4 linked regions of the Homo sapiens genome follow. The protein of the gene in region 4 purifies or fractionates together with the protein of the main gene of each other region. This does not show direct contact. Each region holds a gene or a part of one and is shown on either strand. Other genes may lie near its edges.

The links.
Region 1: the proteins of ALDH2 (region 4) and FGG purify together in Homo sapiens (affinity purification with mass spectrometry; 3 studies listed by BioGRID and IntAct, with this or other methods). This does not show direct contact.
Region 2: the proteins of ALDH2 (region 4) and AARS2 fractionate together in Homo sapiens (co-fractionation; one large-scale study listed by BioGRID). This does not show direct contact.
Region 3: the proteins of ALDH2 (region 4) and GRPEL1 fractionate together in Homo sapiens (co-fractionation; one large-scale study listed by BioGRID). This does not show direct contact.

What each region holds. Positions count from the first base shown.
Region 1 is NC_000004.12:154,603,671-154,606,663, forward strand, and holds the end of FGG (fibrinogen gamma chain isoform gamma-B precursor), read right to left. Parts: intron 1,397-2,993; coding exon 1,164-1,396; 3' UTR 685-1,163; coding exon of another isoform or gene 670-684; 3' UTR 501-669; downstream 1-500. UniProt on the Homo sapiens protein: Together with fibrinogen alpha (FGA) and fibrinogen beta (FGB), polymerizes to form an insoluble fibrin matrix. Has a major function in hemostasis as one of the primary components of blood clots.
Region 2 is NC_000006.12:44,300,790-44,303,347, forward strand, and holds part of AARS2 (alanine--tRNA ligase, mitochondrial), read right to left. Parts: coding exon 2,497-2,558; intron 2,387-2,496; coding exon 2,277-2,386; intron 2,122-2,276; coding exon 2,013-2,121; intron 1,725-2,012; coding exon 1,602-1,724; intron 1,382-1,601; coding exon 1,271-1,381; intron 676-1,270; coding exon 592-675; intron 478-591; coding exon 367-477; intron 1-366. UniProt on the Homo sapiens protein: Catalyzes the attachment of alanine to tRNA(Ala) in a two-step reaction: alanine is first activated by ATP to form Ala-AMP and then transferred to the acceptor end of tRNA(Ala). Also edits incorrectly charged tRNA(Ala) via its editing domain.
Region 3 is NC_000004.12:7,058,395-7,061,729, forward strand, and holds the end of GRPEL1 (grpE protein homolog 1, mitochondrial precursor), read right to left. Parts: intron 2,815-3,335; coding exon 2,468-2,814; 3' UTR 501-2,467; downstream 1-500. UniProt on the Homo sapiens protein: Essential component of the PAM complex, a complex required for the translocation of transit peptide-containing proteins from the inner membrane into the mitochondrial matrix in an ATP-dependent manner.
Region 4 is NC_000012.12:111,797,933-111,801,432, reverse strand, and holds part of ALDH2 (aldehyde dehydrogenase, mitochondrial isoform 1 precursor), read right to left. Parts: intron 3,356-3,500; coding exon 3,191-3,355; intron 1,600-3,190; exon of another isoform or gene 1,528-1,599; coding exon 1,370-1,527; intron 1-1,369. UniProt on the Homo sapiens protein: Required for clearance of cellular formaldehyde, a cytotoxic and carcinogenic metabolite that induces DNA damage.

The DNA.
Region 1 (2,993 bases), on a different chromosome or scaffold from region 4:
GAAGGAAGAGATGGTTCCATTCAGCTCACCTCATGACTAGTGAGAGATAGGGCAAATAGCTCCCTAAAGCTCTCTGCTCTGAGTTGCAGTCCTTTCAGAGTGACCAGGTCCCACCACAGGTGTTTGGAGCTAAAAGGTTCTGCTGGGAGACTCCCCAAGCAGCTTTCCTGTCTCCAGCTGCACTTTGGATACTATGCATCTTGGTTGTGTGGCTGTGACTCCTGCTTAGTGATTATGTTCTTGTATAGAGTATTGTCAGTTTGGGTTGCTGTATTTTCCTGTATTTGTCCTGTATCTCCTAGAGGGCAAAAGCCATAATTGCTATTTCCTTTGTAACTCCCAAAGAGTTAGGCATAACATTTAGCATAAAATGAGGACTCAATTACTACTGATGGTTGCCCAATTGTAATTGGTAAATTGGCAAAAAGTGGTGGTTTTTAATGGTCAATAAAGGTACCATGTATCTAGTCTTAGGAAACAAAAGGTTTATTGAAATGCATGTAGATAAATTATCATCAGCATAAAACTGTTATGGAGTTTTCAACATGGGGTCTTTTGCTCTTAAAATGAAGTGAAGCTTTGCAAGTCCATTGTCCAATAGGAAAAATATTATATCTCTCTGTTCAGATAAAGTCCTTTAAAAAAGTAAATCTCTTTTGAAACGGTCTTTTAAACGTCTCCAGCCTGTGAATATATAACAAAACAAAAACCATATTAAAAAGACATAATTTTCTCCATTTAAAAAGAAGAATTAAATAGGAATGATTTAGGGGTAATAAACAAGGAAAATACCTGGGAATTTGAAACTCTAAAATGTTCTCCTATTTTATTAAGTACATACTAAAATATTTGATATAATGAAAATAATTTACGAAGACAAAATAAATGACAAGTGGTCATAAAAATGCAAATAAAGTCAATCATTTTATTATTATATATTTAGGAACAAAGTTGAAATGTTATCTCCTCAAATAAACAATTTTTAAATAACTCTGATATCAGTAATTTGGAAATACAGTCCTAAATGAGTTTTAATTTCCATTGAAGGCTAAATGTCCTTAATAGAAGACTTGAAATCAATAAATATAGTAAGAGAAAAAAGGAAGAAACTTTCAGAGAATTTCTGAAACTTTGTGGGTCAATAGAAGTTAGCAGTTAATTTTCTACAAATCATCCTCAGGGTAAAGTGAGTCATATTCTGTTTCCGCAGGGTGCTCTGGTCTGACCTGTTTGGCTCCCCCCAGGTGGTGTTGCTGTCCTTCTCCAATTGTGAGTCTGTTGAATGGGATTATCTTCATAGTGGTTTTCTTCATGGAATACCACCGGGTTTTCCAAGTGGCCCAAATAATGCCATTATCATAACCATTAGGAGTAGATGCTTTTGAGTAAGTGCCACCTAAAACAAGTCGTAGATGTACATATCATTATTCTGGAATCTTTTTACCTCTGCAAGTCTATGAAGAGCTGTCTATTACGAAGTGCATTGCCAGTTACATAAAATTTATAGTATTATCTGCTAACTGAAAATATCTCCAAAGATTCCTAAAATATCAATTTATAAAATAAACATATTATTAAACAACATCTGTGCTGTGACTCATAGTCACATCCACACTTTAAATTTATTCACTACTAGTAGGGCTAGAAACCCAAAGTTCCCTAATTGGCCTCTGTCCCTAAGCTTATCCATCCCGGACTCAGCTGCTGTGGACCATCTTTCTTCAGGCAGGTTAGAAGAGAAGGAGCCACAAAATTCCTGATGAGGTCAACTCAGGTTATTTGAAAGCACAATTTTGTTGGTTGATTGAGGAGCTTTAGGAAATGGTTCTGGCATGTTATTTTATGTCTCCATTTTAAAGTGCAGCCTCTGTTGATTTGCCTTCTCCTTGTCCTAGGGAAGCAGATCTCATGTAATTCTGTAAAAGGCTTGTCAGAGCACAACACTGGCATGAACTACAGCTCTGGCATGGCGCCCCGGGTCACACAGATCAAGCATTTTCCCTTAGAGTTTCTTCTCATTATGTGGTTTGTGAGTGCAAAGATAAGTTATGTTTCTCCAATTTAAAAATATTGTGAAAATCAAACTGTTACTTTAAATAAACTGTGCAAAGTTTCCTAGTTGGTGATTGGCTAGGACATCAGGAGGTAAGGTTGCTCATCTTGGTAGATGAGGAGACTATGGTTTGCTACAAGCCCGGAGTGGTTTGGAACACTGGTTTCACTCATCTACCCAGCAGATATGGTAGGGAAGTCCTACTGATGCTAAACAGGTCTGGTCTGACTGTTTGGCTTTCCCAGGGTGGTGTTGCTGTCCTTCTCCAACGGAGAGTCTGTTGAGTGGGATTATCTTCATAGTGGTTTTATTCATGGAATACCACTGGGATTTCCAAATAATGCCATTATTGTAACATGGATCCTTTAGCATCGGTAAGGCTTCCCCACACATAACTGCTGGGTAGGTGAGTGAAACCAGTGTTCCAAACCATTCCAAGCTTATAGCAAACTATAGCCTCCTCATCCAACCCCCATCCTAAAATAAGTGTCTACTGTCCTCAGACTGGTCTCTTCTCTCAAGCTTTCACAAACCCCTGCCCTTACCAGTGCTTGCCTTCTCTTTATTCTGTTCCTCCAAACACCTGTTCACTGCGTGTATCTGACACAAAGCTCATGGGAAGCCAGGTTAATGTGTCAACAAGCATCCATGTAGTAATGTTAATCCATCCAGATCATTTATGTTGTATGTCTAAAGGAGATCCCACAACCCACAGTGCCAGCTATGATGGTGATAGTTTCACATATAATGCCAAACTACTGGATATTTTGCAGCAGGTGGATTTCTTTAGAAGGGCTAATTTTAGGCATGAACTTGGTATTATCCACTTCCAGTTTCAAAGAACTTAGTTGAAATAAAGAACATGATAAAATCCCTACTATCTTTATAAATTATTCTTCATTTCTTCATATCTATTTATTATTTTTTATGAAAATAGTAT
Region 2 (2,558 bases), on a different chromosome or scaffold from region 4:
GAGCTGAAGGTCATCAGTGCCCCCTTCCCAGCTGGGCACATGGTGGGGCAGTCAGGTGATGAGCCGGAGAAGGTTTGGGCTGGAAATGTGTGTGGGGAGGTGTATGAACGTGAACATCTGCTACTTGTTTACAAGGGATGTGAGGCCTGGGAGGGGTTAGGAATTAAGGAATCTCTTGGTGCCTTCTGGGGTGGGGAGGGGCTGTTTTCAGGAACAAGGAGATTCCCCATCCCTGTCCTGGAGTATCCTCATAGATACTTCCACCCAGCCTTGGCCCCTTTGGGAGGAATTAAAGGTGTAAAATCAGAGAGCTGGACCAGGATGGGTATTAATGGGGGCGGTGGGCTGCTCTCCCACTTCCCTCACCTGGGCCACCTGACAGGCACACAGCACCTTCCCCATGGGCTGGGGGCTGAGTAGGAGCACAGACGTGCTGGGGGCCTGCTCACACAGCTGCCGTACCACCTTCACCAGCACCTGGACCACGAAAGACAGATGGTGAGCCCATCGCTTCCCAGACCCCTAGCTGTCTCCTGGTCAGGACTTTGCCCTCCCCAGACCCTGGGGCAGCCCGGCTTGGCTAGCACTCACTGAGAGAGACTCAGCAGAGACTGTGTCCACAATCAGAGGCCCCTTCGAGTGCCGCTCCAGCAGCTCCTGAGTTTTCTTTGCAGCCTATGGGGCAGGAAGGACAAGCAGAGGGGTCAGGCTGAGAGGCAGGTTTCCAATTAGCCCCAACTTCTGAACTAAGCCCCAGCTGAGCAATCCCCTGCTTCCCCCACCCACCCCAAAAGTCATTAGCTCTAGGCAGAGGTGGCAGGGACTCTGCCTAGGGTGGCCTCCTTTTTGGGTCCCACATGTGTCCTTCCTCACTTCCCTCACCACTTCCCTTTCATCATAGCTTCAGGCCCCTACAAATAGGTCGCTGAAGGTGAAAGGAGGAAGGTCAGAGCACAGATGGACCAGGAGTGGGCGGGAGAAAGGGGGATCCACAGTGGAGGTGCAATCAGGGCTGAATGGCACTAATCAAGTCAGTAGGCTTCCGGGGGTTCTGAGCCAGACTTGGGAGTTGGGGGAGAAACACAGTTTGAAAGAGACAGAAGTGGGGGAATGGCCTGGGTGATGGTTCTCAGCTGGCAGGAGAAGGAAGCTGCCACCACCCCGTCCTTGCACAGCCTCTGACTCACCCCCATGCCCCAGCCCTTGAGACTTCTCAGTGTATCTGCTGGAGTGTCTCTGGGCACATGGGTGCAGCCAAACCTCCTCTCACCTGTCCCATTTGCAGCTTACGGATGGCAGTGTTGGCACGCCGCTGCAGCATCTTCACTGTGGCCAGCAGCTCCCGCCGCTGCCACTGGGGCATCACAGCAGTTTCCACAGCCTATGGCCAGAAGCAGTACATCACCCCTGCCCTTCCCTGAGCCATAGTCTCTGAGGTAGGGACCAGCAGGGCCAGGGAAGACACCCACCCTGCAGACAAATATCTGGGCCAGCTGGAGCCCAACCCAATTGGAGTGCTAGGGAGAGTCTGAAGGAGTCCAGGGAGGAATAGGGGAGGTAATAGGGCTAGGAGAGGGTGGGGTGGTAGGCGTGGCCCTCACTTCAATGAGTCGTCCTATGTCCTTGGACAGCCTCAGTGCCTCCGCCACATCCCGGCTCCCCAGACTCAGCCGCTCAGTGGCCGCTTTCACTTCCTGGGCCAGGCTCTGGCCTAGCTCTCGGGCCTGCAGGGAGGGGACAGGAGGGTCAGGATTACATTCATCTCCCCAGGACAAGGCCTCTCAACTCATTACTGGTCAGGGACAAATAAGATTTAACAATCAGGACCAATCAAGGCACCAGCACCAAATAATCAAAACACATGCCAGCTGCCAATAGCTGATATGGCCACATTGGTGTCCAAGTATGAACACTGGCTCTGCTGCTGGGCACCCCTGAGCCTGAGCATGTCACCTGCGTGTGTCCCATGCACCCACTCAACCCAGAAGTCCCAGGCCTACTGGCATGCTGACCTGCTGGGCCTGCTCCCCAGTGACGGCCAGCAGGCGGGTAGTGCCCTTGGAAAGCTGGCGGTCCCCGATGATAACCAGGTCCCCTACAGCCCCAGTACGTAACAGGTGCCTGTGGGAGGAAGGAGTGAACAGAAAGTCGGGGCATGACAGTAGAGAAGGGAGAAGCCAGCGTGCATCTCCCATTAAGGGCTGATGGCTCCAAAGACCAAGGGAAGGGCAAGGATCCGGGGCCCCTGGGCCAGGCAGCACAAAGGAGTGACTCACGTCCCACAGCATAGCTCCACAGAGGTCTGCAGTGCGGCTTGGGAGGCTGGGTCCAATGCATGGGCCACGGGCACCCCCACTGATACCACCCGCACAGGGTCTGGGTAAACCTGAGGTCAAGAGGGGACAGGCCCGTTAACTGCCAAAGGAGAAGGATAAAGCCTCCAGGTATGCCTGAAGGAGGCCCCCGATCTCCAGCAAAAGGGCTTCCCCAACTCACCTCATCCAGAGAGCGCAGGCCAGGGACCTGGGCAGTGAGCGCCAGGGGCACCTCCTCCATGT
Region 3 (3,335 bases), on a different chromosome or scaffold from region 4:
TGCTGGGATTACAGGCGTGAGCCACTGCACCCGACCTAAAGTTGCTTTCTCTTAAGCAGAGACCCTTTCGTGCCAGGTGCTCTCCTCCCTCAAAGCAGCAGTACAGCCAGAGAAAGCCAAATGGGTCTGAGTCTTTCAGGAAGCCAGGCCGACTTTTCAGATGCCTCTGAGACTTCCAGTTCTGGTTTTCACTGTTCACACGTGACACTTCACTCATGCTGCAGTTATGCTAAATCCAGTAACTACTAGAAGGTAGCTAAACAAATCTTTAATTCCTACTGTAAATATGCACATAATTAAAAGACATTTTCCTATTACAGGTTGAGTATCCCCAAATCTGAAAGGCTGCAAAATCTGAAACTTTCTGAGTGCCTACATGGTGCTCAAAGGAGATGCTCATTTAGAGCATTTTGGATTTTGGGATTGGGGATACTTAACCAGCAAATACAATGCAAATAGTCAAGCAGAGAATCTCTTTTCAGTCAATGAGGGGCCACATATTAGAACACAGTTTGCACTGTACCTTTACTATGTTATGTTCAGATACACAGATACCATTGTGTTAACAGTTGCCTACAGTATCAGTACAGTAACGTGCCCTCCAGTCTAGAGCAACAGGCTACATACACCATATAGCCTAGGTGTGGAGGAGGCTCCACCACCTGTTTTTTAGGTCCATGTAGGTACACATGGTGTTCACAGGAAAAACTGCCTGACAGCGCATTTCTCAGAACACATCCCTGTGGTTAAGCCATGCTTGACTATATTCCAAAATCCGAAAACCCCCCAAGTTTGAAACAATTCTGGTTCTAAGCATTTCAGATGATAACCAACTTATAGTGACTATGGATGACTGAAGCTTACTGTAAAAAAATATTTTGCTACTTAAGCTATATTGCCTCTAGGTTACGAGTTAAGTGCTTTTTAGCAACTGCAGCTGTAGTTGAGACGGTAGGAGACTGCAAACATTCACAGAAATGAGTTGATAAATTACTTTTCTTAGCCTCCATTTAACTCGGGAGCTCCAGGGGTGATGATGCACTCACAACCCCACAGCGTGAAAACAGGCAGCGCTGGAGCTCCCAGTCATGTTTTCTTCAATACACGATGCTGCCTTTAGTTGTTTCTGACCAAATTAACTTAAGGCATCTTAAAGGTGGAACATGTTTGGGAATGGTATCCCAAGATGAAGTATTATGGGACCATTACTTGCGTCTTTTAAAATTAGAAGTGAAATAAACTGCCCCATCTTTCCTGTGCAGCAAATGGCTTTCACAAGTATCTTCCATTCTAGAAGCAAAGGCAGCGAAAGGTTCTTTTCTCTTTTTTGTAACAGACGCCAATCATTCAGCCTTTTTCTAAGCCCTGGATGACCGTGTAAATGAGGAACAGCCCTTTGGCAAGATGATTTTGCAAATCCTGTGCCCTTGCTGTGGCTCCTGGGTGTTTCGTATTCTTACCGGACGGGCTGCAGCTGCACTGGGGGAGTGTGGCTCTCCCTTTCTGTGTAGAAGCCTGTATATGTGTGTACGTGAATGTGCACGCACGCACGTGTCAAGCTGACAGCTTCTGGGCTGGAGTAGAGAATGGGAAGGCTAAGCCATGCTTGCCTCAGCGGCAAGGATCTCCATGAGAGGACACAAAATTGTTTTCAGAAAGTAGGAAAATAAACATTAGGGCTTTAATCCTCTTAAATAAAAATTTTAAATTAAACATTAACATTTAAAGTACACCAAGCGTGCAGTCCTATTTTGAGAAAGTCCATTTTGCCAGGGAATACAACTTGAGGTCATTAGTAACTAGTTGAATATGATTTAAATATGTCTGCATTTAGATGAACAGAACAGGGTAAAAGGAACTTTGCCAAGCCAAGCTCAATTCCTGGCCAAATAATGGGGGAGAACTGTCAGTGCCCACACCCATTTCTCAGTGGTCAGTTTCAGCCGCTGTTGACTGAAGACAAACGAACTCACTATGTTCTTCACAAAGATCATTTTTTTTAAGTAAGAAAAATGTTTCAACTCTCTTGCCTTTCCTTCAGCGAATGAAATGTGACGGGCTAAATACGCCAGTCACTCATGCGCCGCAGGGACACATGGTGCAGACTGGCGTGCCCAGGTAGCCAAACAGAATTCCCCAAGACCTTTTATTTGTTTAAAATACTTTGGTGTCAGCAGAGTCTGAGCAGACACGTTACTCATGATGCTCGGGAGACCAGGCAGGGCCCTGCTGAGCTCTTCTGAAAGTATGTGGAACTATTCAACGCGTGGCACTAAAAGGGAACAGACTCCCGAATTAGAGTTCATTAATGCAGTTGGGCAACCGGCTTTTCTGTTTAGCCACTGGTTACTTAAGGTTTCCAATAAGGTTTGGGAAAAGGTCACACGTACTCATAGATGAGAAACAATGAACCAGCCTTGAGAGTTACATCAAGTGAGTTTAAAAACACCCACCCCATCAACAGCAGCTAAGCTTCCTTCACCACCCCCACCAGGGCGGGTCTCAGAGTGCGCCCATGCAGCTTGTACCCCACTTTGCTAACTAGGGCCACTGTGCCTGGCTCCTTCCCCTCAACCGGTGTGTGGAACAAGGCCTCATGTTCATAAGGGTCGAACTTGGCTCCGACAGGGTTCAACTTGAGCAAGCCATGCTTTGTGAACACCTTCTGGATCTGGACTTCAGTCATGACCAGCCCCTCATAGAGGTTCTTCAGGTGAGGGTTATCGTCTTTAATTTCTTCTTTTGGAACACACTGTGTTGCCTTCTCCAGAACGTCTGCCACCTCCAACAAGTCCTTGCAGAAGGCTTGAATGCCTGGATGAAGTTAAAGAAGATCATTTGCACTCCATACCAACCGCACAGGGCAATTCCAAACTGAGCACTGCTGACCTGATGTGGAGGCTATTTAGTAACTTGTCAAATCAATCGCCTCAGAATTCCAATGGCTCAATAACTTTAAAAAACAACACAAAACTCTCAAAAGCTACTTGTGGGATGAGACCCAGAATTTACTAAATTTAGAATTCACTAAAATGTGAAGAAAGGAGTGCAGTAGAGGGGAAAATACCCTTGAGACATCCAAGCCCAGATGTCAAGCAAGCAGTAAGATTTAGGGGACTGGAACTCGGAAGATCCGAGTTTGAAGCTGAGACTTGTGTGTGGATGCCACTAAGCCCGTAAGAGTATGTAAGTCACCCAGGGAGCACAGCAAGGGGAGAGAAGAGGTCTGGTACTGAGTCCCAAGAGCCCAGGCATTTACAGGTCGGAAAGGGTAAGAACCAACAAAGCACATTACCACAAAGAGAGGCGGAATACCAAGAAACAGGCCACAGTAT
Region 4 (3,500 bases):
GCCACCGCACCCAGACAGTCTGGGTTCTTTCACTCAATGTTATGTTCAAGATTAATCCATGCTATTGCATGCATGGCTACTGATATGGCTTGGCTTTGTCCCCACCCAAATCTCATCTTGAATTGTAGCTCCCACAATTCCCACGTGTTGTGGGAGGTAATTGAATCATGGGGCCAGGTCTTTCCCATGCTATTCTTGTGACAGTGAGTAAGTCTCACAAGATCTGATGGTTTTATAAAGGGGAGTTTCCCTGCACAAGTTCTCTTCTCTTGTCTGCCACCACGTGAGACATGCTTTTCACCTTTCACCATGATTGTGAGGCCTCCCCAGCCACGTGGAACTGTGTGAGTCCATTAAACCTCTTTCCTTTATAAATTACCCGGTCTCTGCAATGTCTTTACCAGCAGTGTGAGAACAGACTCATACAGCTACTTCATTCCTTTCTGTGGCTGAGCCACATTTCATTGCATGGACAGATCACATTCTGTATCCATTCATCTACAGACGGACATTTGGGTTGTGTTCACCTTTTGGCTGTTACAAATAATGCTGCTGTGAAGATTCATATACACGTTTTTATGTGGGAGCACGTTTTTCTTTCTCTTGGATAAATACCTAGGAGTGGAATTGCTGGGTCATATGGGGGCTTCATGTTTAACTTTTTGAGGAGCTCCCAAATTATTTTCCACAATGAGTGTGCCATTTTCCATTCCCATCAGCAACATAGGAGGGTTCCGATTTCTCCACATCCTTACCAATACTTTAAAATATATATACATATAGCCCAGCCTGGGCAACATGGCGAGATCTCATCTCTACAAAAAATAAAAATGTTTTTTAATTGTCCAGGTGTGGTGGTACACACCTGTGGTCCCAGCTACTCAGGAGGCAGAGGTGGGAGGATTGCTTGAGCCCAGGAGTTCAAGGCTGCAGTGAGCTATAATCGCACCCCACAGCACTTCAGCCTGGGTAGAATATTTTTTTCTGTCTGAAAAAATAAAACTAAAAATAAATAAATAATAAAAATATAGCCATCCTAGTGGGGGCTAAGTGTGAAGCAGAGGCTAAGCTTTTAGGATCAGTGTCACAATCATGGGTCCCTCTGCTCTGGTCTCCTGCCCTGAGGCAGCTGGGGAGGAGCCCCACCACTCCGCTGCCTGCCAAGTTCAGGTGCAGGGCCTTTGCACCACAGAGAAGCTTGATCCTTCGGAGGTGAGGTAGCAGGACCTCTCAAATCGACATCACACCCTGACCCAGGAGAAACTGAGCCCAGCTCCCCAAATTCCAGGATGGTGACCACCAGATTCCAGTAGGCCCTGGCTTTGAGGAATCTCTGTTGGGTTGTGAGGGGCTGCTGGGAGGCTCTTACCACACAGTGCCCGCCTGGAGGGCCTGGGACAGGTAATTGGCCTTGTCCAAATCCTTTGTGAAGACAGCTGCGGCCAGCCCGTACGTGGAATTGTTGGCTCTCCCAACAACCTCCTCTATGGTCTTGAACTTCAGGATCTGCATCACTGGCCCGAAGATCTGGAGTGAGAGAGCAGCGTAGGAGGGTTCGGCAACACGGAGGCACCTGCCATCGAGCTCTCTCAGAGCAGAACAGATGATTCCAGATTGGGGGATAAGCCCCCAGCCATGCTCTAACAGTTCCAGGGGAAGACAACAGCCATCAAGCTCAGCAGAACACAGAGGGAATGGAGCTAACAGGGGCCAACTTCCTCCTGTGCGCCCCGGGCTTTACATACAGTATCCCATTTCTAAACAATCCTGCCAGGTATGTTATTCACACGTGACACGTAGATTTAGTGTCAAAGAATTTAAGTCAGCTGGGCATTGTGGCTCATGCCTGTAATCCCAGCACTTTGGGAGGCCAAGGTGGGAGAACTGCTTGAGTCTAGGAGTTCGAGTCCAGCCTGGCAAACACAGAGAGACCCTGTCTTTACTCAAAAAAAAAAAAAAAATTTTTGGCCAGGCACGATGGCTCACACCTGTAATCCCAGCATTTTGGGAGGCTGAGGCAGGTGGATCACCTGAGGTCAGGAGTTGGAGACAAGCCTGGCCAACATGGTGAAACCCCATCTCTACTGAAAATAAGAAAAATTAGCTGGGCGTGGTGGTGTGCGCCTGTAATCCCAGCTACTAGTAGGGTCTGAGGCAGGAGAATCGCTTGAACCCGGGAGGCAGAGGTTGCAGTGAGCTGAGATTGCACCACTGCACTCCAGCCTGGCGACAGAGTGAGACTCCATCTCAAAACGAGAAGAGAAAAAATAAGCCGGGCGTGGTGGCTCATGCCTGTAATCCCAGCACTTTGGGAGGCCGAGGCAGGCAGATCACGAAGTCAGGAGTTCGAGACTAGTCTGATCAACATGGTGAAACCCTGTCTTTACTAAAAATACAAAAATTAGCCAGGCGTGGCTAAAACTGGAGACAGAGTCCCGCTCTGTTGCCTAGGCTGGAGTGCAGTGGCGCGATCTCGGCTCACTGAAACCTCTGCCTCCCAGGTTCAAGCGATTCTCCTGCCTCAGCCTCCAGAGTAGCTGGGATTTCAAGCAAGCGCCACCACGCAGGGCTAATTTTTTCTTATTTTTAATACAGACAGGGTTTTGCCATGTTGGCCAGGCTGGTCTCGAACTCATGACCTCAGGTGATCCACCCACTTCGGCCTCCCAAAGTGTTGGGATTACAGGCGTGAGCAACTGCACCCAGCCTGTACTAAAAAATTTTTTTAAAATTAGCCAGGCATGGTGGTGAGCACCTGTAGTCCCAGCTACTCAGAAGGCTGAGGTGGGAGGATCATTTGAGCCCAAGAGTTCAAGGCTATAAGGAGCCATGATTATGCCACTGCACTCCAGCCTGGGCAACAGAGCAAGAATCTGACTGAAAGAAAAAAGGTCATGGGAAGGAGCAGACAATGTCATTCCTAGACTCCTGGCTCTGAGGGCCAGGACACCAAGGCCTGCAGGCCATGCTGAGGAATGCAGACGATCTCCCAGACAGAGGGTACAAGCTGAAGAGGAGGGACAAGATCAGATACATACTATGAATAGCGTGTTATGGGCACTGGTTCTGGGTATAACTTGAGATCTGGCCCCAAGCCAGCAGATGGGTGACAGCATCAGGATGCCAGGCTGAACTGTTTACCTCACCTCCCGCCAAGAATGTTTCCAGAGCACTGGCCCCAAGTGCTCACCTCCTCCTTGGCGATGGTCATGCCATCCTGCACATCTCCAAACACAGTGGGCTGGATGAAGTAACCACGGTCAGCAGCAATGCCCCCACCACACAGCAGCTTCGCCCCCTCTTGCTTCCCCGTGTTGATGTAGCCGAGGATCTTCTTAAACTGAGTTTCATCCACCTGTGGGAGAAGGAACCCAGAGTTATGGAGACATCGGATTCAGACCTCTCCTAGGCTTCAGGCTTAGAATTATGCAGGCAACAAGACAACTGGGAAATGGACCAAGGTCATAAGAAAGCAAGATCAGAAGAGGAAACACACAGGG